Homo sapiens: one gene and its partners. The protein of the gene in region 4 interacts with the protein of the main gene of each other region in a pairwise test. Each region holds a gene or a part of one and is shown on either strand. Other genes may lie near its edges. The genes, in order: WASHC1, CAMSAP2, SYBU, EXOC1, SNX18, MLLT10 and RUFY2.

Evidence for each region.
Region 1: the proteins of EXOC1 (region 4) and WASHC1 interact in a two-hybrid assay, tested with the Homo sapiens proteins (one study listed by IntAct).
Region 2: the proteins of EXOC1 (region 4) and CAMSAP2 interact in a two-hybrid assay, tested with the Homo sapiens proteins (one large-scale study listed by IntAct).
Region 3: the proteins of EXOC1 (region 4) and SYBU interact in a two-hybrid assay, tested with the Homo sapiens proteins (2 studies listed by BioGRID and IntAct).
Region 5: the proteins of EXOC1 (region 4) and SNX18 interact in a two-hybrid assay, tested with the Homo sapiens proteins (one large-scale study listed by IntAct).
Region 6: the proteins of EXOC1 (region 4) and MLLT10 interact in a two-hybrid assay, tested with the Homo sapiens proteins (one large-scale study listed by IntAct).
Region 7: the proteins of EXOC1 (region 4) and RUFY2 interact in a two-hybrid assay, tested with the Homo sapiens proteins (one large-scale study listed by IntAct).

Annotation. Positions count from the first base shown.
Region 1 is NC_000009.12:16,735-19,456, forward strand, and holds part of WASHC1 (WASH complex subunit 1), read right to left. Parts: exon of another isoform or gene 2,412-2,722; coding exon of another isoform or gene 2,292-2,411; intron 1,759-2,291; coding exon 1,647-1,758; intron 1,441-1,646; coding exon 1,294-1,440; intron 1,122-1,293; coding exon 985-1,121; intron 746-984; coding exon 610-745; intron 433-609; coding exon 231-432; intron 143-230; coding exon 1-142. UniProt on the Homo sapiens protein: Acts as a component of the WASH core complex that functions as a nucleation-promoting factor (NPF) at the surface of endosomes, where it recruits and activates the Arp2/3 complex to induce actin polymerization, playing a key role in the fission of tubules that serve as transport intermediates during endosome sorting.
Region 2 is NC_000001.11:200,846,893-200,850,392, reverse strand, and holds part of CAMSAP2 (calmodulin-regulated spectrin-associated protein 2), read right to left. Parts: intron 3,184-3,500; coding exon 3,101-3,183; intron 2,754-3,100; coding exon 2,684-2,753; intron 2,362-2,683; coding exon 159-2,361; intron 1-158. UniProt on the Homo sapiens protein: Key microtubule-organizing protein that specifically binds the minus-end of non-centrosomal microtubules and regulates their dynamics and organization.
Region 3 is NC_000008.11:109,617,323-109,620,822, forward strand, and holds part of SYBU (syntabulin), read right to left. Parts: intron 1,718-3,500; coding exon 1,520-1,717; intron 1-1,519. UniProt on the Homo sapiens protein: Part of a kinesin motor-adapter complex that is critical for the anterograde axonal transport of active zone components and contributes to activity-dependent presynaptic assembly during neuronal development.
Region 4 is NC_000004.12:55,870,648-55,874,147, reverse strand, and holds part of EXOC1 (exocyst complex component 1), read right to left. Parts: intron 3,471-3,500; coding exon 3,243-3,470; intron 3,048-3,242; coding exon 2,915-3,047; intron 2,300-2,914; coding exon 2,190-2,299; intron 1,394-2,189; coding exon of another isoform or gene 1,340-1,393; intron 1-1,339.
Region 5 is NC_000005.10:54,524,259-54,527,758, reverse strand, and holds part of SNX18 (sorting nexin-18), read right to left. Parts: intron 1-3,500.
Region 6 is NC_000010.11:21,540,732-21,544,231, reverse strand, and holds part of MLLT10 (protein AF-10), read right to left. Parts: intron 1-3,500. UniProt on the Homo sapiens protein: Probably involved in transcriptional regulation. In vitro or as fusion protein with KMT2A/MLL1 has transactivation activity. Binds to cruciform DNA.
Region 7 is NC_000010.11:68,404,478-68,408,452, forward strand, and holds the start of RUFY2 (RUN and FYVE domain-containing protein 2), read right to left. Parts: upstream 2,801-3,975; 5' UTR 2,713-2,800; coding exon 2,709-2,712; exon of another isoform or gene 2,386-2,708; coding exon of another isoform or gene 2,277-2,385; exon of another isoform or gene 1,348-2,276; coding exon of another isoform or gene 1,344-1,347; intron 989-1,343; exon of another isoform or gene 968-988; intron 368-967; coding exon 194-367; intron 1-193.

The DNA of each region.
Region 1 (2,722 bases), on a different chromosome or scaffold from region 4:
CTGCTGCTGTCGTCCTGCCTGGCGCCTTGGCCTACAGGGGCCGCGGTTGAGGGTGGGAGTGGGGGTGCACTGGCCAGCACCTCAGGAGCTGGGGGTGGTGGTGGGGGCGGTGGGGGTGGTGTTAGTACCCCATCTTGTAGGTCTGAAACACAAAGTGTGGGGTGTCTAGGGAAGAAGGTGTGTGAGCAGGGAGGTCCCCGGCCCAGCTCCCATCCCAGAACCCAGCTCACCTACCTTGAGAGGCTCGGCTACCTCAGTGTGGAAGGTGGGCAGTTCTGGAATGGTGCCAGGGGCAGAGGGGGCAATGCCGGGGCCCAGGTCGGCACTGTACATGAGGTCGTTGGCAATGCCGGGCAGGTCAGGCAGGTAGGATGGAACATGGATCTCAGGCACCTGGCCCAGGTCTGGCACATAGAAGTAGTTCTCTGGGACCTGCAAGATTAGGCAGGGACATGTGAGAGGTGACAGGGACCTGCAGGGGCAGCCAACAAGACCTTGTGTGCACCTCCCATGGGTGGAATAAGGGGCCCAACAGCCTTGACTGGAGAGGAGCTCTGGCAAGGCCCTGGGCCACTGCACCTGTCTCCACCTCTGTCCCACCCCTCCCACCTGCTGTTCCAGCTGCTCTCTCTTGCTGATGGACAAGGGGGCATCAAACAGCTTCTCCTCTGTCTCTGCCCCCAGCATCACATGGGTCTTTGTTACAGCACCAGCCAGGGGGTCCAGGAAGACATACTTCTTGTACCTACGGAGGCGACATGGGGGTCAGGCAAGCTGACACCCGCTGTCCTGAGCCCATGTTCCTCTCCCACATCATCAGGGGCACAGTGTGCACTGTGGGGTCCCAGGCCTCCCGAGCCGAGCCACCCCAGTCACCCCCTGGCTCCTGGCCTATGTGCTGTACCTGTGTCTGATGCCCTGGGTCCCCACTAAGCCAGGCCGGGCCTCCCGCCCACACCCCTCGGCCCTGCCCTCTGGCCATACAGGTTCTCGGTGGTGTTGAAGAGCAGCAAGGAGCTGACAGAGCTGATGTTGCTGGGAAGACCCCCAAGTCCCTCTTCTGCATCGTCCTCGGGCTCCGGCTTGGTGCTCACGCACACAGGAAAGTCCTTCAGCTTCTCCTGAGAGGGCCAGGATGGCCAAGGGATGGTGAATATTTGGTGCTGGGCCTAATCAGCTGCCATCCCATCCCAGTCAGCCTCCTCTGGGGGACAGAACCCTATGGTGGCCCCGGCTCCTCCCCAGTATCCAGTCCTCCTGGTGTGTGACAGGCTATATGCGCGGCCAGCAGACCTGCAGGGCCCGCTCGTCCAGGGGGCGGTGCTTGCTCTGGATCCTGTGGCGGGGGCGTCTCTGCAGGCCAGGGTCCTGGGCGCCCGTGAAGATGGAGCCATATTCCTGCAGGCGCCCTGGAGCAGGGTACTTGGCACTGGAGAACACCTGTGGACACAGGGACAAGTCTGAGGGGGCCCCAAGAGGCTCAGAGGGCTAGGATTGCTTGGCAGGAGAGGGTGGAGTTGGAAGCCTGGGCGAGAAGAAAGCTCAAGGTACAGGTGGGCAGCAGGGCAGAGACTGGGCAGCCTCAGAGGCACGGGGAAATGGAGGGACTGCCCAGTAGCCTCAGGACACAGGGGTATGGGGACTACCTTGATGGCCTTCTTGCTGCCCTTGATCTTCTCAATCTTGGCCTGGGCCAAGGAGACCTTCTCTCCAATGGCCTGCACCTGGCTCCGGCTCTGCTCTACCTGCTGGGAGATCCTGCCATGGAGAAGATCACAGAGGCTGGGCTGCTCCCCACCCTCTGCACACCTCCTGCTTCTAACAGCAGAGCTGCCAGGCCAGGCCCTCAGGCAAGGGCTCTGAAGTCAGGGTCACCTACTTGCCAGGGCCGATCTTGGTGCCATCCAGGGGGCCTCTACAAGGATAATCTGACCTGCAGGGTCGAGGAGTTGACGGTGCTGAGTTCCCTGCACTCTCAGAAGGGACAGGCCCTATGCTGCCACCTGTACATGCTATCTGAAGGACAGCCTCCAGGGCACACAGAGGATGGTATTTACACATGCACACATGGCTACTGATGGGGCAAGCACTTCACAACCCCTCATGATCACGTGCAGCAGACAATGTGGCCTCTGCAGAGGGGGAACGGAGACCGGAGGCTGAGACTGGCAAGGCTGGACCTGAGTGTCGTCACCTAAATTCAGACGGGGAACTGCCCCTGCACATAGTGAACGGCTCACTGAGCAAACCCCGAGTCCCGACCACCGCCTCAGTGTGGTCTAGCTCCTCACCTGCTTCCATCCTCCCTGGTGCGGGGTGGGCCCAGTGATATCAGCTGCCTGCTGTTCCCCAGATGTGCCAAGTGCATTCTTGTGTGCTTGCATCTCATGGAACGCCATTTCCCCAGACATCCCTGTGGCTGGCTCCTGATGCCCGAGGCCCAAGTGTCTGATGCTTTAAGGCACATCACCCCACTCATGCTTTTCCATGTTCTTTGGCCGCAGCAAGGCCGCTCTCACTGCAAAGTTAACTCTGATGCGTGTGTAACACAACATCCTCCTCCCAGTCGCCCCTGTAGCTCCCCTACCTCCAAGAGCCCAGCCCTTGCCCACAGGGCCATACTCCACGTGCAGAGCAGCCTCAGCACTCACCGGGCACGAGCGAGCCTGTGTGGTGCGCAGGGATGAGAAGGCAGAGGCGCGACTGGGGTTCATGAGGAAGG
Region 2 (3,500 bases), on a different chromosome or scaffold from region 4:
ACAGTGTGCTTGAATGTTACTATAGTTAATGGGGATGAACTTGTATCAAAAGGGACTGCTACTGAAAGAAGCAAGCATGTCAACTGAAAAAAAAAATATCCAACACAACCACACTCATCTAATGAAGATGCCCAAAACTATGCAGATTAATACTACACCTTAAAAAAGAATCCACAGCATACTTTCTGGTCATCATCAAATTGTTCTTTATCACTTTCTCCATCATATTTTTCAACAGGTACATCAGCCTTTTCAGGGGGTTTCAAATCTGAGAGGGAAACTTCAATCAGATTAACATTTTTTGGAGCAGTGGGTGGGAAAACGGGTTTAGGAGGGGGTTCTGTGGGTTGATTCAATTGGTCCTCATTTGGTGTCAGACATACAGTCTCTGTGACAGGCAGTGATAGGACTTCAGAGACTGTTGACTCAAAAGGTTTGATTTCCTTTTCTTCTGGATTATGTCCACGCTGTTCCAAAGTCCCTTTGGATTCCAATTCCTCCTTTTTAACTTCCTCTTTAGGTTTGGATTCCTTTAACTGAGGTTCTCCATCATCCCCAAAACATACAAATGACCTAGTTTGAATAGGAACTTGACTTGGTGAAAACCTCCTTAACCGAGGAAGGCTATCCACAGACCGAGGAGGTGTCAAGGTTCGATTCAAAGGTGTTATTTTTAACTCATTTGGCCTAGGAGTCCTTTGACTTTTAACAGAAAAAGATGCACTTTTCCTGTTAGAAGACTGTGGAGATGGGTGAGTAGGACGAGGGGAGTCTGAGGAGAATGGTGCAATGGCTGATGACAGGCCTGCCTGCTTAGAAGGCTTAAAATCTCGAATCTGTTTCTGTGGAGAGGGTTGTGGAGGTGAAATCACCCAAGATTGTTGCTCTCTCATCTGCATTAACATCTCCTGCTGAAGTGACAAGCGTTGCATTTCTTGTTGTAGAAAATGCAGGGATGAATTTAACTTTTCAATGGATTTGGTATATTCTAAAATCTCTCCTTCATTTAAAGTTTCTTCTGAGGGGCTTGCCAGGTTCCACTGCTTCTCAGGATCAATAGGTGTAGTTGGAGACTTTAGCCATTTGGCTTGAGGATTCTCCATGCTCTCTTTTATATCTGCCAGTGACTTGCTCCTTTGTCCATCAGTTTTTTGTGATTCCTTTTCTTTTGCTCGATCAGTATATACTTTCTCATCTTCTGCACCCGCCGCTTCCTCTCGTAGAGGAGATATCCCATCCCCTTTCTTTTTCACTACAGTAAGGAATGCTGTCCTTCCCATTTTCTGTCTCTGTTTGGTAAAAGCAGCTTCCATTTTCTTTTTCTGGGCTTCTATAGCACGCCTCTTTTCTTCTAGTTTCATCCTAAGATGCACCATTTCAGAGGCCAACAGCTGGGTAGTGTCCCGTCCCTGTGGAAGCCCTGTTTCTTCTGGAATTTGTGCCCAAGCAACCACATGAGGAATATTAAGTTCAGAGCCTTCTGGTGTAGTTTTTTGAGAACTGCTTCCACTACTTTTTCCATCGGTATGATTCAGTTTCCTGAATTTTTGTTCAGCAAAGCTGGTCATTTTAACTCCAGAACTAGAAGAAGCACTGCTGCCTGGCTGAGACTTGGTACTTACAGTACTTGGACAAGGACTCAAAGCTTCCCTGGTGTTGCCAGTTCGAATATCATAATCCTGAAGAAATTTAGATGCATCATCCATGTCAGAGTCCAAGCTTACAGTATAATCTCTCAACGAAGAATCTTCGTCCATAGTTTCAGGAATATCTTCTGAAGGAACGTGAATTCCAGTGTCTACTTCAGTATTGTCAGTTATGGGACTCAAGGCACCTTTCGTATCAGTTACATTATCAGGACTAGATTGATTTAACTTGATATTTGAATTTAAGATACTCATTTCTTGACTATGAAGAAAGAAGCCATTAGCAATTTGGTCTGGCTGAGGTGTATGAGGAGATTTTTCAGTATCATGAATTATTTGTAATGCTTCTTCAATGCTTGGTGTCTCGATCTGATTGCCAAACTCGTCAAGAAGTATTCTATTTTGTAAAGCTCCATTTGGAAGCTTGTAATGAATATTCTCATTAGAATTTAGTTCATTTGTGTTAAGGGGCACACAAGATTTGAGGTCACTGTGAGAATCTATATTAAGTTCTTCTTCAATGCTCTCTGCTTCCTCTTCTCCATTTATTGGCTTGAAGGACAAATTTTTCCTAATGTGTTTAGATACATGACTGTTGTTCAGAGTAAGTCCTTCATTACTAATAGAACGAGTGATTCCTCGGTTTGGAGTGGATCTCTGTACACTATCTTCTTTATCAAAAGAAATATCAAATGATACGCCATGCACTGATGATCTAAAAAAAAGTTAAAGAGAAAAATCCTTTAAAAATCCTAGAAATGATTTTTAGTATCATTTAACAAGAATTATTTGAAATTACATTTCCTTTCTTTCCCCAGTTCTCATAATCATACTGTCTTCAAGGTAAGGGGAGGGCTATCTAGCTACTTTTTAAAGTTAGCCTCTTTTACATCTCTATCATCTGCCTATACTGCCTTTTTCAAATTTAGGAACTAATTAAAAGTTTTAGCAATTTGGTTATCAATAAAAGAGAGACACAGATGCAATTTGCATTTCTTAATAATCTGAATACACTAAAAGTAATTCTCTTTGTTTACCTTTTCTCTTTGGGCCATGTCCCTATGAAGCCATCAACATAAGACATAGATGAAGACCTTCTAATTCCTCCTTCAAATGCAAAAAAGAAAAAGCCATTGAAATCATGTAAAAAAATTAACTTATAGCAACTTAGGAGATTTCATGTATTTGAGGATTCATTAATAGCAATACAAATTAAATAGGTACATAAGGAGAATTAGAGATAATTTTATCAAGAAAAGCAACCACAGTGAAACTGACCATGCTTTTAGTGTGTTATAATAGCCATTTTTCAGAAAACAAACAAACAAACAAAAAAACACACACACACACACACAAAAAAACCCTGGATATTTGTTTATTTATATTTACTGTCAATCATTTCCCAGGTAACCTACTTAAAAGAGTATTTTCCTAGGCTTTTTCAAATATATTACCTGAGGCTGAAGAATGAGCCTGGGGACGTGAATACCTAGAAGGCAAATGATGATGAGACTGTGTAAATGTAGCTCCTTCCCCACTGCAATGGAAAATAAATTTAAAATGTTATATTTTAGCTGTTTAATATAAATTTAGGTAGAATGTCTTAAGTTAGAAACAACACTACCACCTCTCATTCTACAACCTAAATTTTAAAAATATGGAAACATATTGTTTAAACCAAAGAATGGCTGTGATTACAGTATGTATCTATATATATTTTATGTCTTTTAGCCAAACAACTTGAAGTACTTTCATATACATCTCAATGTCTTTGTGAGATATGAATTATTTTCATTTTTATAAACATAAAAACTGATATATAAAAAAGTAAAATGAAACTCACCAATTTGAAAT
Region 3 (3,500 bases), on a different chromosome or scaffold from region 4:
GGGGAAAGGGGGAACAGAGTGCTGATGGACTTGGGGTTTCTTTTTGGGAGTGATACAAACTTTTTGGAATTAGTAAATGGTGATGTTTGCACAACAGTTTGAATAGGCTAAAAACTATTGAATTGAACACTTTATAGGGTGAATTTTATGGTATATGAATCATATCTCAATTTTTCAAAAAGGCAGTTGAGCTAAGGGAGACAGTCCTAGCCCTTGGGTACACAAGGTAATTGTTTTATTTCTTGGCTAAAATTTCATGACATTCTTTAACTCATTGTCTCTTTCTTAAATATCAAGGGTGCTCAACACCCTTTGTATCATCCCCATCTTTCTCATTTATAGGCTGTCTTTCCTTCTTCATTGTGTAGCATTCCTTTTCTTTTACATATTATTCCAAAGTGGGAGACTATTAACGAATTCATTATGACTAACATTTATCAGGCACCACTAGGAAATAGAGGATTTCTTTTTCACAGTTTAAGTTTTCCTTGGTGACAAAATGACCTAATCTTTGGTTGACAAGAGCAAGATGAAGAATAATCCATTATGATGTATTGTGTACATCAGTGACTCAGGAAGAACAAAAGCAGAAAGAAATGTTAGCATCCTATGGAAGAGGACACAGGGCTAGGCCTTGGCCCCATCAAAATAAAACCATCTGTAGCTCCTTGCACAATAATGTCATCACCAAACAAAACTTAGAAGACAAATGTAAGAAACAAGGACTCATGCAAGCCAGTAATCTGTCTTTTCAGCTCATAAATATGGATAGCATAACTGTGAATGTTAAAGAGAATAATGCAATGTTAGAGGATACCTCCCAATGACGATGAACACATCCTTTTACTTTAAAGTAAATATACTGCATGTGTATTTCTGAGATACAAAATATTCATTTACATAGTGCAGATTCTGAGAATTGACCTTTTCTGATGCTGCTGGCATTTCATTCACTGCAGTGATGACCTCCATTTCATCTTATAGCTTCTAATATTTTGTAATTATTGAACATTTACATGTGTTTATACATATCATATTCATATTTAAATCTCTAAAAGACTATAACTAAGTTAGCAAGTATGCCCAGCTCTACATATTTGCATCAAGATAACTCCCAGCTCTACAGAGATTTGCATTGAGATAACCTGTTCTCTTCACGGTTTGTGGTCACTTATGATAGTACTAACTAATTGCTTAGTATAATTGAATCTAGAATTACTCATATAGTTTAAATGCTTGTTAAAACATCTGGCTTATATTTCTTCACTTTTGTCTCTTTTTTAAAAAAAGCTCTTTATAATGAATACACATGTCACTATAGGTCACTATAGTTACTCAGTTATTAAAAACCATTTCAGAAAATAGTCCACTTTCCACCCTGCCTCCTTTAAAAATGATGCTTTAGATGCTGGGTACGGTATTTGTGATCCCCGACTCGATATACAGGTGTTTAGTTTTAAACATGAAACTACTCCCATCACATTGTTCTGATGAAAACATGACGAGTAAGTTCACTGACCTGGTTTCACAAGGCCTGACTTTGATTCCTTCTTATATCGAGAGGACTGAATGCTTCCTTCACCAACCATTCCAATCGTGCATTTCTTTCTGGTGAAGCCTTCATCACTTCCAGGGCAAAAGCCAATGGGGCTGTTTCCAGCATCTGAGGGTGTCTTCACAGGAGACACTGACTGGCTGCTAGGACAGCCTGTGTCATCTAGAAGACAGGAATCAATAAGTGTTTAATGATGAGGAGGAAATCAATGATGGTGAGAAGCCATGCGGTGCACCACACACACGCACACGTGCACTCGCACACGTACACTCTGCTTATGAAGCCCAGGTTAACTGCTGTGGACTCTCCTCTCATGACGCTCCTTTCATTTTTCCATATTTTAATGCAAAACCTTTTTTTTTTTTTGAGACAGTCTCACTGTGTCACCCAGGCTGAAGTGCAGCGGCGTGATCTCAGTTCATTGCAACCTCCACATCCCAGGTTCAAGCAATTCTCGTGCCTCAGCCTCCCAAGTAGCTGGGATTACAGACGTATGCCACCAGGCCCGGGTATTTTTTGTGTGTATTTTAGTACAGACAGGGTTTCACCATGTTGGCCAGGCTGGTCTCAAACTCCTGGCCTCAAGCGATCCATCTGCCTCAGCCTCCCAAAGTGCTGGGATTACAATCATGAGCTACCATGCCCGGCCCCTTGTAAGCTTTTTGACACAAATATTTCTGTAACACTCATTTTGTCAAAACATAAAGACATGTCTGTTTCAACACTTTATATAGTGTATTTTTGGGTCATATGTGTCCATAGATTTTTGGATGTGTTTAGTAATAAGAAGTTCACCAGAACAATTCAGGATCTTTAGGGTGAACTCTTCAGAGTTTACATCTGGAAAATAAAATTACTTGAATATTATTGACCACATCCAGTTTTGGATCACTTGACCCATCAATTGGTTAACAGAGTTTGAAAGATAAGTCATCCGACTTTAGGGTTCAAAGAAGCAGTGTGAAGTGATCCTGTTTTATCATACACACACAACCAAAAATACATAAATCAGATATATTGCTATCTGGAGTAAACTGGTAAGATGAAAATGATTTTTAGACTAGAAATGTTCCTTTAACTTTCAAATAACAGATTATTACCAGGGTGATTATATTAAGTTAATATGCACGATATGAAGTGACCTACATAGATGCTTATTATGGAAACAGGAAAGTCATACTGCTGACTCCTATAAATGCGTTCCACATTTATTAAAGTACTTAGGATAGTTGGTTAATTTATTTATATTTTGATGAGCAGAACTGTATTGGACCTCAAAGCCAAATCAGTATTACTTAAAAGTACATCTACTCAAACTGATCAGTTAGTGGTAAATTTACTTTACTAAATAATCTTTATTATATGAAGATGTTTTGATGCCAGAGTTACTTTAGTAACTCATTAGACAAAGAACAAATAAAGACATTCAGTACTAATAACTTTTCAGACATCTTGTGAATATTACGGGAACTAAAATAATGTGCCATCTACCAAAGGCTATCTTAAAACTCTACAGCTTGAATAAAGATAGAAACAGAACTAAGCCTGAATAAAACATGCTGATTGCTAGAATCCATCTAAAGAAAGAATTACCATTGCTTCATTTTTTGGCCTTTATTTCATTTTTCAATTACAAAATATCTCAATTCCTGGAACAGAGTGAACTTGGCACTAATAAAATGACTTATTTCTCTTGATAATCGTGTTTTGACTTTTTGGTCTATCAGCATACGCAGGACCTCTGTGGTCTGTTTCTGGAAGTGAATGGTTTTTAGGGTGCTGCTCATGCCTGCAGTCTTCGGGCTCTTTTAAATACGTTGCGTTCTTCCTGAACTCCTGAAGAAACTCTGGCCCTGAATAACAGGGTGATGAGAACCCTTCTTGGTGGCTGTTGCTCAGCTCTTTCATCATTCACTGCCCTTGCCTTTCCCTTACACTTACACAC
Region 4 (3,500 bases):
AAGTCCTACCTTATCTGCAATTCCTTCCATATCTCACTCCTTAAATTCTCAATAAACTCACTTTTGATTAAACCTTTTTAGCACTTACAGTCCACAGTTCTACAATTAGCAATTTATTACATACATTGCTAATGTACATTAGTCTTAACTCCTTACAAAGAGTAAGTACATTAGTTTTAATTCCTTCTTACAAGCATCTTGAGGGTAGGAACTATTGCTTATTCTTATATATGGTAGACAGTGAGTACATAATAAGCATACAATGAAAATTCTGTGATTGCCAAAGAGGTGTACCATATTATTTTAATCAATTTTCCCAGCTTGTCTCCCTACCAGGAATAGAAATACCCATGTTTCTCAACAATTTTGCTAGGTGACCTGATGCACTGAATGCAACACTAAGAAAATCTTTCTTATGTGTGGGATATCTTCTTCCACCGTTTTTGGCACACCCCAGGTTGTCGCAGCGTTCTGATTTTTAACATGCATCACTCACATGTAATAACACATATCAGCTTTTCAGAAATGGGAAGCATTCATTTTAAACGAGGCCATTAGTTTACAAGGCAAGAAGCAAAATCATAAATAACTGCATGTTACAACAAACAGTTAAGGGTACAGAAAAGACTATTGTTTACTGGCTGGTATTTTCAATACTATCTAACAAATGTGGATAACATAATTGTCAACAGTGTCATTTTTAAAAACTAAGGAATTGTATAGAAATAGATGTTATTGAAGTAAGTACCTAACAAAAACATGAATTAGTATTTCCTATGTGACATTTAAGCTTACTTTTTTCTCGACACTTTTCAGTCAAGTGGAATGTTAAGGGAATCTCTCTGATTCCCCCCTACCGTGCTTTTAGTTAGGTGGTCTTCCTTTACACTCCCACAGTCTCGCTGTCATAACATTTATCCCTCTTGAGTATATTATTTGTTTGTCTCGCTTCCCTAGACTGTGAACTACTAGAGGACAGGATTGGTCTCTCATTTATCCCAAGTTAATGTCTGGTATGTACCTCAATCACCTGGCAATACTAAATAAATGAAGGATTAATATTACTACTATTACTAAATGAAGGAGTAATATTACTATTTATTACTAAATGGAGTGAAAAAATGACAGAAAGAAAAGCAAGCAGAATGAGATTAAATGCTTTTTTGGCCAAAATAGTCTCTACTATGGGACATTTAAAAACTGCTACGAATGTGGTTAACAGGTAGCTTAAATCAGTAAGTTATAATCTGTAAAGATTCGGCTGCTGTTAAGTTTAGCAAACTTTATAGAAAAAAAAAAACAGAATCAGAGAAGCTTGAGCCAAATTTGATGTACTCACAGGAACCGAAAGAAAGTAGGACCTGTTATAGAGTTGAAGGAGGGCCTGAGTAAACTAATTGGAAATAAAATATAGTAAATACAATTGTTTTAGAATATTGCAAAGTGAAAATAAAGTAAAAATCCATTGTTTTCAGGCAGTATTTCTTGATGAACGAGATATTCCCCCAATTTTTTTTCATTCTATAACTCTAATAAAATAAAAGGGACTTTTAAAAGAGATGAAAAAATAAGAAACCTAATTTATTGTATTAGATATTAAAATGGCTTTTATTCAAATCCCTCAAAGGTACTCTTAATATTATTAATAACAATATTATTACCACACTCTTAATTATAACATCCTTTTCCATATAAAAATATAGGTAAAGCATTTATATGAAGATTAGATCAACTGAAATTTGCAGTTGAGCTAGTCATTTTCTTAACAATTATACTATGTACTAAGTACATAGAACTTACAAAACATTTAAAACACTGAATCAAGTCCTGAGTCTCACCTCAAAATACTGAAAAATAAAACAGGTCCAATAGTAAATATCTAACAAGTTTGGACTTACTTTATAAATAAAAATATCTAAGTAGTATATGCAATTCATATGCATAGTTATTTGATTTCTAGAATCAGAGAGCATCAGCTGAAAGGAACTAGACTGTCTACCAAAAGAGGCAGCTGAGGCCCAAAGTACATCTATGAGCAAAGAGGCTCCTATTTCAAAATCTTAAAATCAAATATGTGAAGGAATTGACTGCAACCCCAATTAAACATATTAACATTTTTGTGGAAATGTAAGGTTAATACATAAATAAGCTATAGGAACATGCTCGTTTTAATAATAAAATAAAATTACCTGTTGAACAAAAACATTGTTGAGGTGACTGGCCAGTCTCCGGGCAAAAAGCTCTCGCAAATCACTGAATCGCTGCTGTTGCTGTTTGACTGCCAGAAGCAAGTCATGGCCTGACACAGAACGACATTTTGTGACCAGTTTAATGGGTAAAAAGATTTCCTTGATGTTTAATGGAACATTAAACGTATCTAACGTTTTGAAGAACCCAAAAGTTTTATGGGTGTATTCATTTACATGATAAAAGTTAAGCAGGAGAAAAATGGGATTTCACAGTAGTTCTCAAAGTGTGGTCTTGCCTCACCATCGCCTGGGAACTGTTAGAAATGTGGATTCTAAAATCTCAGCCCAGATCTGCTGAATCTGGGACTGGGGCCAGGCAATCTATGTTTTTAACAAGACCTCTAGGGATTCTGACGGACACTCAAGTTTTGAAATAATTGCTCTCGTCTAACCAAAGCACCTACTTTCTGCTGGGTTCTGTGGATAGTACTAAATAAAGATCATGGTGTTGACTATAGTCATTGAGGACAATTAGAAGGAGGAACTGAAGTAAAAAAGTTCCTAGTATCAATAGAAATAAGTTGGGAAATCAGTGAAACTTGAATAGCTAATAATGTAACCCTTAAACCACTTGTCTCATGTATTTCTTGTCAAAACCTTTATAACAAGTTACAGGCTTAGTCTCACATTCTTGGTCACATTTTTGTCATTTCTAATGAACATACCTGGTCGAAGAGCTACATTCATGCACTGCAGAAGGGCATCAGCAGCATTGGTGCAGGCCTCAATGCCTCTGGAAGAAGCAAGATCTCCTTCCTGAAGGGCCTTTATATGACCTTTGGCCAAGTCCATGTGGTTCTAGAATATATGCAAACACACCATTTGCATGTGTAATTTTGGGAAATTTACAGGCAAGATGCTATTCAGTCCTATCATTAGGTCTTTGGAATTATTTTAAATCCTGTTCTCACAAGGAAATTAAAAAATGTTTACAAATGGGTTTTATATATCATCACTAGTTTTTTTTTGTTGGTAATTTATGATCATACTTACCACAAGGAACTCTATCTCAGATAGGAGTTTTACATTATTAGTGTTACTAAGATGAATTAGGTGGTTGCTTTCAGAGATCTGATCCATTTGTTCTTTTACACTTTGGAGCATTTCCTCATAACTGCTCAGTTTCAATTCAATCTGATCTACCTCCTTTAGAGCCTCATCTAGCAATTTCATCAGGATGTTGACTTGTTTTTCAGATGCCATGATTGACTGGATGTTAGCCTACAAAGTTAAAGACCAAAACAAACAAAC
Region 5 (3,500 bases), on a different chromosome or scaffold from region 4:
AGTTAACAGCTATACAACACAGGAACATAAAAACATAACCCACACACTAATAACTGAGCACCGCACAGACAATTATTCACAAAAGGACTACAATCCAAGGGGGATACTCCAAGGAAGGGGACTAGACCTGAAGCTAGAAAGTGCTTGTGTTGGGGTGGGGAGACATGGAGCAGAATGCATGAGCCTGATCTACCTAAAAGGAGAAAACTCAATTCCTGATTGCTGCTCCCCACCCCTGTTCTGACAATTCTTATTGTAGGCCAGGCCAAACAGGCCAAAATTACAGTCACCCTTGATGACTCCCCTTTCTCTTGCATGTCACATCCTTCACAATCCCATCTCTCAGGAAAACCTGTTGATTCTACCTCCAAAATATAGCTGGAGGGGGACCCCCCCCCCCGGCTCCCCGACCACCACCTCTGTTGTCTCCACTCTGGTCCAGGCCACCAGCATCTCTCACCTGGATTACTGGAGTATTTCCTACTAGCTCCCTGCTTCCATCCACCTTTGACTGCCACACGCCATTCTATTCTCATTGCTCTGGACTAAGTCTGTTAATATGTCCAGTTGGATGTCATACCTTGGCTCAAAATCCTGTAATTGCTTCCATCTGACTCGGGCTTTCATTCCAAGTCCTAACAGTGACCTGCAAAGCCTTGCAAATCTGACTTTCCATGACCTCATCTCCTAGGATCCTCTTAACTTCAACCACCTGGCCTTGCTGTTCCTCAACCTGCCTGGCACATGTCCACCCCAGGGCCTTACTTTAGCTAAACCCTCTGCCTGAAAAGCTCTCCCCCGAGATACCTGCTTGGACGACTCTCCTGACTCCAGAGTGATTCAGGTCTCTGCTTAAATCTCACTTTCTCAATGAGACCTACTTTGAGCACTCTTACTAGTACTTCATCCTGCCTCCCATGCCCTCTTTCCCTGCTCTACTGTTTTCTCCTAGCACATACCAAACTCCAACATACATCAAAACTTACCTCCTGTGTTTGTTTTTCATTGAGTGTCTCCACCCTGCTAGACTGCAAGCTCCACAAGGGTGGGGATCTTTGTTTTGGCCACTGATGCAACACTAGCATCTTGAATAGTGCCTGGACGATGATGGGTACATACGTATTTGTTGAATAAAATCTAGTTTATCTTTTAGAGGGTCCTATGAATAAATCTAATGATTTTATCTCCCCTTCCTTCACTGTCCCCTTACCTGCTAAATAACAATTTATTTAGCAGAAGAGGAAAGTCAAATCACAGTGACAGATAAGTCATAAGAAAAGGTACAGAAATGACAAGTGAACTAAAACTCATTCAAATTAAAGTTTAATCAAGCTATAAGATCAATATCAGAGGCTGGGCACGGTGGCTCACACCTGTAATCCCAGCACTTTGGAAGGCCAAGGTGGGTAGATTGCTTGAGGTCAGGAGTTCAAGACCAGCCTGGCCAATATAGTGAAACCCCGTCTCTACTAAAAAAAATAAAAAAGTTAGCCAAGCATGGTGGCACATGCCTGTAATCCCAGTTACTCGGGCGGCTGAGGCAGGAGAATCATTTGAACTCGCGAGGCAGAGGTTGCAGTGAGCCGAGATCGCATCACTGCACTGCAGCCTAGGTGACAGAGCAAGACTCCATCTTTAAAAAACTGTCATAATTTATCTCTTTGGTAGTCCTATTAATTTGGGTCAGAGAGAAGTCGCTCCAGCTGTCTACCATACCACAGCTTCAGAACACCCGGGAACCCTCACCAGGCAGCAGCAGGCCAGGTATTAATCACTTTTACATTCGAAGTTCCTAGTGAGGTAAGCCTGCAATGCGTGATTGCTGATCTGAACTAAACGTGCATAAATGTTCTTTCACATCAACTGATAAGGGCTTTTCATGCTCCCGTAAAACAGTCACATAAGTAGACAGAGAACACTATTAAAATCAGCCTGAAACAATGTCTAAAAGTTTCCTGGATACTTAAGACTACTCTTATTTTTTTAAAAAAGTCAACTAACAAAATAGTACCTAGGAAATAATGAACCTCACTTTTACAGATGAGGAAACTGAAGCTCAGAAACATTAAGTGATCTGCACCAGAACACGTGATTTGGGTTAGAGGGGAGCCAGGAGGAGACAGTTTACATACACTCTTCAATGTGAACAACAACAAACGATTGACTCCAAACAACATCTACATTTATCCCAGTTGCCATTACTTCCGGTGTGCAATACAGGGCGAACTGATTAAAGCAGATATTTAATTGCTAGACTGAAGACTCCTTGAGCTTTTGTACTTTTGCCTACAATTCTGGTGGCAATAGGTTGCCAGGAGGGATGATAAGATTACTGGAATTGTCCTTCAAAGGAGAGCGCCCTTAATTTTTTTTTTTTTTTTAAAGAGACAAGGTCTCACTGTGTTGCTCTGGCTGGATTTGAACTCTTGGGCTCAAGTGATTCTCCTCCCTCAGCCTCTCAAGTAGCTGGTATTAAAGCCATGTGCCACCATGCCTGGTTGTCATCTCCTTTTAAATTCACCCATCTATTTTTCAAAAATAAACATTTAGTGACTAGCTACTATGAACTATAACATTTAATTCTCATGCTGACCTCGTGAGGAAGTGCCCCCACTTGGCCAAAGATAAGTGAGCGTTACGCAGGTTAAAATAGCTTGTCCAAAACTCCTCCATGCCCACACACTGGCCCTCCAGAGCCCATGCTGGTCCCGACAGGCCAGCTCCCACTGCGATGAGGCTCTGCACCCACGGCTTCTTGGCTTGGCATGCTGCCCCTTCACTGGCACAGCTTCCTCAGCAGACCCAGCTCAGTCCCACCCCTTGGTGCAACTCCTGGGGCAGACTGGCCCATCCACCAGGCTCTCAGAATCCTGGCACAAGGAACTGCCGAGGCTGGCTGACCTGTCTCTGTAGCTAGTCAAATAACTCACTTAAGACCAGAGGCCTACCCAGCCCTCCTGCAGACACCGGCAGAGCGGCCAGATTCTAGTCTGTGTTGTATAAATATGAGACATGATACACGTCTGCCTTCCGGATATAATCTTGTCAAACAGAGCTCAGCATTACTCTGCCACTTTATAATCCTTTAGTTAATGATACAGAGCTTCAAAAATATATGGCAAATTAAATCTAACTTGATATTTAAACTTTGATTTAAAAATACATGGGGTAATACAATAATAGTTTTTTATTCAGCCCAAAGAGAAGGAACATATTAAATAGTTCAAGGGAAGTGTTTGTAAGTGAATCACAGAACTTCTCACTTGTTTGGGTTCTGGCATTATGCTTAGAAGTCCTAAGATGGCCAGACAGGACAACATTGCTGAACAAGGAAACCTCATAGGCTCCCTGAGTTACTGGGAGGAGGGTGGGAGTGCAGGTCCTCTGCCTCCCTTCGGTCCCACTGTGGTCGGCATGACTCTGAAGGCTATGTGGCTCAAAAAAGAAGTCTGAGAAACCCCTGACGGTGTGGTATGAGCGGTGCCCACACCCAGTTTCGT
Region 6 (3,500 bases), on a different chromosome or scaffold from region 4:
ACCATAGGAGGCAACATGGTGGTTAAGAGGTAACACAGTGGTTAAGAGCTTAATCACATCCCAGACTGTCATAAAACATCTATCTCTCTTAAAACTATAGTATCCTTACCCATAAAGTAAGAATAATATCCACCTCATAGATGTGACAGGATGCTTAAATGAAGTAACTGGCATAAAACATTTAGCACAGTATGTGGGCACATAGTAAACACTCAAAAAGTTAGCTACTCATTTTGGAACAAGTAGCACAGTAAGTCGGCAGAAAGAAAAGAATGGAAGCAGGCATGCAGACAAAAGTAGAAAAAAGATTCATAAGACTAATTCAATTCCCTTTCTGGGTGAAATACATTTCCATGTTAGGGTTCTTGACTCCTGTGTCCTTATAATACAATGCCCTTTCTTTGCTTATCTGTTTCTTACAAAGGACCCTGCCTTTCATAATTATACACTACAGACCGGGCATAGTGGCTCACAATGGTAATCCCAGCACTTTGGGAGGCCAAGGTGGGCAGATCACCGGAGGTCAGCAGTTCGAGATCAGTCTGACCAACATGAAGAAACCCCATCTCTACTAAAAATACAAAACTTAGCTGGGCGTGGTGGCACACACCTGTAATCCCAGCTACTCCGGAGGCTGAGGCAGGAGAATCGCTTGAACCCGGGAGGCGGAGGTTGCAGTGAGCCAAGATGATGCCACTGCACTCCAAGCCTGGGCAACAAGAATTAAACTCTGTCTCCAAAAAAACATAATATATATTTTTAAATATAATTTTAAAAAGGTTTTGCTTTTGCCTCTTCTTTAAAAATCCTTGGCCAGGCAACATGGCTCACGCCTGTAAACCCAGCACTTTGGGAGGCTGAGGCGGGTGGATCACCTGAGGTCAGGAGTTCGAGACCAGCCTGGCCAAAATGGAGAAGCCCTGTCTCTACTAAAAATACAAAAATTAGCCGGGCATGGTGACGCATGTCTGTAACCCCAGCTACTGGGGAGACTGAGGCAGGAAAATCGCTTGAATCCAGGAGGTGGAGGTTGTGGTGAGCCAAGATTGTGCCATTGCACTCTAGCCTAGGCAACAAGAACGAAACTCCATCTCAAAAAAGAAAAACAAAAAACTAGCCGGGCATGGTGTCTGTAATCTCAGCTACTCCGGAGGCTGAGGCAGGAGAATCACTTGAACCCGGGAGGCGGATGCTGCAGTGAGCCGAGATCGCGCCATTGCACTCCAGCCTGGGCAACACAGCAAAATTTCGTCTCAAAAAAAAAACAAAAAAAAAACCTTAATGTCACCCACATCCCACCAAATGATGTTAAAATAAAATGCCCCCCTGCAAAAACTTCTTTTTCTTAAAGAGGGTTTCACTTTGTCACCTGGACTAGTGTGCAGTAGTGTGACTATAGCTCATTGCAACCTCAAACTCACAGGCTCAATGGATCCTCCTGCCTCGGCCTCCCACGTAGCTAGGACAAGTACACCACCACATGTGGTTAATTTTTTTTTTCTTTTTGTAGAGATAAGGTCTCACTATGTTGTCCAGGCTGATCTCCAACTTGTGGCCTGATCTCCAACTCAGGCGTGATCCTCTCACCTCGGCCTCTCAAAGCACTGGGATTATAGGCGCAAGCCACTGCTCCCAGCAGCATCTAATATATATATATTTTTTTGAGACAGAGTTTCACTCATTGCCCAAGATGGAGTGCAATGGCACGATCTCAGCTCACTGCAACCTCTGCCTCCCGGGTTCGGGCGGATCTCCTGCTTCAGTCTCCCGAGTAGCTGGGATTACAGGCGCTCACTACCACGCCCGGCTAATTTTTTGTATTTTTAGAAGAAACGGGGTTTTAAGATGTTAGCCAGGCTGGTCTCGAACTCCTGACCTCATGTGATCTGCCTACCTGAGCCTCCCAAAGTGCTGGGATTACAGGCTTGAGCCACCATGCCCAGCCCTAATACACCTTTTAAGTTAACTACCTTATTCACACTGACACTTTGACCATGTCCTCAGAGAGAATAAAAGAGTGGAAGCACGTAACAAGTGGCATTTGAGGCAAATGATGCTGGCATTCTGACACTCCCTATTCATTATCTTCTCTCTCTGAATACCCACCTTATTTTCCTATCTTTTCCAGCCTTCAATCTACTGTGACACCCCCAGGAACAGCCTCATCTCATTGTCAGTGTTTACTAATAAACCATACGTTCCACTGCGTAGTGACCTATTCACCACAAACCGTAACATGATACAAAGAAAAAAAAGTCAAAGAGTAACGCTATAAAGATTTCACCAAGTCCCAAACTTTCTATGATTGATTTTATCCTCCATTTGCTAAATCACACTAGAATAACAGCTGTAATTCTATTAAAGTGCATTCTCACACACAACCAAAACATATCATCGGAACTATAAAAAAATTGCTCTGGCCGGGCACGGATGCTCACACCTGTAATCCCACCACTTTGGGAGGCTGAGGTAGGAGGACTGCTTGAGCTCAGGAATTCCAGACGAGGCTGGTCAACAAAGCAAGACCTCATTTCTAGTAAAATTCAGGCCGGGCGTGGTAGCTCACGCCTGTAATCCCAGTACTTCGGGAGGCCAAAGCAGGCAGATCACCTGAGGTCAGGAGATCGAGACCAGCCTGGCCAACATGGTGAAACCCCATCTCTACTAAAAGTACAAAAATTAGCTGGGTGTGGTGGCGCATGTCTGTAGTCCCAGATACATGGGAGACTGAGGCAGGAGAATCGTTTGAATCCAGGAGGCAGAGGTTGCAGTGAGCGGAGATGGCGCTACTTCACTCCGGCCAGGGCGACAGAGCGAGACTGTCTCAAAAATAAAATTAAAAAATTAGCTGGGTGTTAAGTGCTACAGGCCTGTAAGTCCCAGCTACTCAGGAAGCTGCGGCAGGAGGATCTCTTGAGCTCAGGACTTCAAGGCTGCAGTGAGCAATGATTGCGCCACTCCACTCCAGCCTGGGGAACAGAGCAAGACTGTCTCAAAATAATAAAATACAAATAGTTCTGAGACTCAACACATTTTTATAGGTTACTCAACCATTATTTCTTTCTTTTTTTGTGAGACGAGTCTCGCTCTGTCGCCCAGGCTGGAGTGCAGTGGCGCAACCTCAGCTCACTGGAACCTCTGCCTCCCAGGTCCAAGCGATTCTCCTGCCTCAGTCTCCCAAGTGGCTGGCATTACAGGTGCACACCACCACACCCAGCTAATTTTTGTATTTTTAGTAGAGGTGGGGTTTCGCCATGTTGCTCAGGCTGGTCTCAAACTCCTGACCTCAGGTCATCCACCCACTTTGGCCTCCCACAGTGCAAGGATTACAAGCACGAGCCACAGCACCCAGCCCATTATTTCTACCGCTCAAAAATTGCCCAGGCAAACACAAAAGCTTCTGCTTTTGCTATATGCCTAGGTAAAGAAGCTAAAATGTTTGTTCTCTACCTTCAGTCTAATTCCATAATCAACACCAAGGGAAAGGAATTTGCTATAAC
Region 7 (3,975 bases), on a different chromosome or scaffold from region 4:
GCATTTTCTGAAGACCATTTATTATTCCATTATTAGAAAACATAGTCATAAGATATTTTCTCCCAAAATCAATCCACTCAATATTTTTTAGTGCACAGTAACGTAATTATGGCCTCAAAAAATAACCCATTCTCAAGGGCACTTGAAAAACGGAAATTCTAAAATGAATTAATTTTTTAAAATCTCATGATACCTTTAAGACCGTGTTTCAGGCAATGTTCCATAACAACAAAGAATTGCTGCAAGGGGGGATAGTCAGAATCCAAAGTGCGGCCAAAGCTCAGAGCAGATTCAATGAGTCCTTTGATACTCAGTTTAGCCATGTTTAACAAGTTTGCTCTCTCTACAGCTGTGGGGTCTTTTGTAGCTGAAAACACAAGAAAGGAATCCAACATCATTTGTAAGACATGACAATGAAAAATATACAAACCATTCCCTTCCCCTATAAAAACCAACAGTAGTTTGCTGTTCCTTGGTTGACAAATTCTCCCCAGCTAAACCACACCCTTGATTAACTTCTCTTTACATCTCTCACATATACTGTAAAAAATTTCCGGCCAGGCGCGGTGGCTCACGCCTGTAATCCCAGCACTTTGGGAGGCCAAGGCGGGTGGATCATGAGGTCAAGAGATTGAGACCATCCTGGCCAACATGGTGAAACCCCGTCTCTACTAAAAATACAAAAATTAGCTGGGCATGGTGGTGCGCGGCTGTAGTCCCAGCTACTCGGGAGGCTGAAGCAGGAGAGTCACTTGAACCCAGGAGGCGGAGATTGCAGTGAGCTGAGATAGCGCCACTGCACTCCAATCTGGTGACAGAGCGAATCTCCGTCTCACAAAAAAAAAAAAAAGAAAAAGAAAGAAAGAAAGAAAAAAGAAAATTTCCATGACCACTCCAGCCAAAGTTAATGAATTATTCTCAAGATCCTGCAAATCTGCCATTCTCCTGTATTTAACTTTCCTGGTACCTCTTCATAGAGAATGAGTTTTTTAAAATGATCTTCTATGGAGATAAATTTGGGGTGAGAGACAACAGGTTTAAGGGCCTCATGCAAAAGGTAGATAGCAGGTACGGTCTTAGGATGAATTCCAAGGCAAAAATGTTCAGAATAAACTGGCAATAAAATAAAAGGTAGTTAAAATTCTAGGATTCCAGTGTCATCCACAACAAACATGACAGGTAAAATACACTGACAAGGGGACACAGAAGAAGCCGTCCAATTCTTTCGTCTACCCTCTTTCTGTCTGGCTTCTTCATTCTGACTGTAGTTCTGTATTGCATGACTGTTTTATTTTCAAAGAGAAAATAAAAGCAGAGACCAGTTTTACATTAATGTTCCTCACCCATCCACACAGTTGAGGATGCCCACAGCGCCAGTCTGAATACCAAGTTAATAGATGCAAATTCTAAAAGGCCTGATTTTTAATTGATATTTTTAAGACACAGTATCATCAAGTAAGATATTTTCAATTCACAAAAATATTGTCCTCCTTCCCGCAAATTTTATTCTCAGTTTACTTAGAAATTCAGACGCTTCCCCATCATCTCATCACTGTTGTGACTGGTGGGAATACCTTCAACAAACACAGATGACAAAACTAAGGTGTGGAAAAACGAAGCACTTAGTATAACATTTCATAATCTCTGACAAATTTACAAGTAATCAATGTGCCCGTTTTTCCTTCACTGAACAACAACAACAACAAAAAACCCAGAGTCTCCAATGATCTAGTATTCCAGCTCCGATTTCTAGATAGCTAGGCATGAAGCCTGACACTGAATCCTAAGCAACCTAAAATGCAAACAGCCACAACTGCTATGGCCAAACTGCCTGGTGGAAAAATGTCCACACACGAATTCCTTCAAATCTGCATCGTGGTCTGACTCCCACTATTTTTCGGGAGTGAAACCACTTCATGTTTCATAATCCGTGGCAACTCTCATTTTTAACACAGCCCATCATAATTCCTAACGTGCGATGCGACAACCACACAAAGGGTGTTTTGCAGCTGCTGGGAGGCAGATCGGTGCTGGGCACCGGCAGTTCCCACGCCGAGGGGCGTTCACACCGCGGCCACGCCCCGGCTGCGCTACAGGACTTCTCCGGCCCGTACGCGACCCCCAAACCCGGCCGCAGGCGCGCAAGGAGTACCAGGGCCAGTGCCCGCACCTTGCCGGGGCCTAGAGCCCCTTCCCTGCCTCTCTTCCTGCCCCCTCCCCCCAGCAAGGCTGCCCAGAGGCCTGGGGGCCCCCCAGGACCATCGCGGCGGGCTCACCCAGGCTCCTGCGCGTCAGCATTCCCCGTCTCCCGCCCTCGGCGTCAGGCACCCAGGCCAAAACCTGAGATGCGTCTTCCCTCCGCCACCCCCAAACCTGAAAAGTCATCGCCCCTCCCCGCCTGCTCCCCGACCCGGGAGTGACACCCTGCCTGGCCCTGTCCTCGCTCCTGGACGCCGTGGCACCTCGAGCCCTCGGCCACTATGCCTCAGAACCCGGGCGGGAACGGGCCGGAACAAGGGAGGGGGCGCGTTGCCATGACGACCCCGGGAGCCCCCGAGTCCCAGGCAGTCCCCGCCCATCCTGGGTTCGGGCCCCAGTTCCGACTGGCGGCCTCGGCGTCTCCCCCAGCTCCCAGTCCACCCCGCCTGGCCGCGGCCCTCAGCCCGGGACTGAGGGCCTAGCGTTCGGTTTCGGCCCGCTCGCCTTACCCATGGCGGCGGCGGCTGCGCGGTCTCGGGCGGAGGCTCCCTCGGCCTGTCCAGCAGCTCCTTCCAGGCGCTCGGCGGCCACCACCGCATCTGCAGCCAGGCCCGCTGCAGCCCACAGCGCCCCCGGCGGCGGGAGGGCGCCCGGGCGGCCCCAGGGGGAGCGGCGCCCCGGGCGGGGCGGGGACCCGCGGACCCTGCGGCGGGCGGGAGAGAAGCCCGCCGTCTCTAAGCCTCCTCGCATCCGCTGGGACCGCGAGGAGAAGGAAAGGAACGTGAAGGAGACCACATGTGTGAGGAGCCAGAGTGCTGGGCCCTCGGTCCCGTGTCCCGGGGGCTTCGCTGGAGCGCGAAGGCCGGATTTCAAGGGGCGGCCGGCCACACGCAAACGTTGCTTCCACCGGGCTGGTGGGGCCTGATCTAACACGCCTGACTACTGCCCATTCACCTTCACAAACACAAAGGGGACCAAAAGAATTTAGAAAATCTGAAGCAATTAACAGTAGGCAGAAACCTAATAAAACTAGTTAGTCCCAAATTACGACTTTTTTTTGTTTTTTGGGTTGTTTTTTTTTTTTTTTTTTTGAGATGGAGTCTCGCTCTGTCACCAGGCTGGAGTGCAGTGGCGTGATCTTGGCTCACTGCAAACTCTGCCTCCCGGGTTCAAGGGATTCTCCTGCCTCAGCCTCCTGAGTAGCTGGGATGACAGGCGCGCGCCACCCCGCCCGGCTAATTTTTGTATTTTTAGTAAAGACGGGGTTTCACCATGTTGGCCAGGGTGGTCTCGATCTCTTCACCTGGTGATCCGCCCATCTCGACCTCCCAAAGTGCTAGGATAACGCCTGAGCCACACAGCCCGCCCTAAAACAATTTGGTAAAGCTCATTACAAAAAGCTAAAGTGAAAAAAGAGAGAAAACAATTCAAAAATATTTCATTATGTGCCACAGCAATATCCACACAAGCACTAAAATTCAGACCTCGGCTGGGTATGGTGGCTCATGCCTGTAATCCCAGCACTTTGAGAGGCTGAGCTGGATAGATCACGAGGTCAGGAGTTCGAGACCAGCCTGACCAACATGGTGAAACTCCGTCTCTACTAAAAATACAAAATTTAGGCAGACGTAGTGGCATGTTCCTGTAGTCCCAGCTACTCGGGAGGCCAAGGCGGGCGGATCACCCGGTCAGAAGTTCGAGACCAGTCTGGCTAACATGGTGAAACCTCATATCTACTAAAAATACAAAAATTAGCCGGGCGTGGTGGCGCGTGCC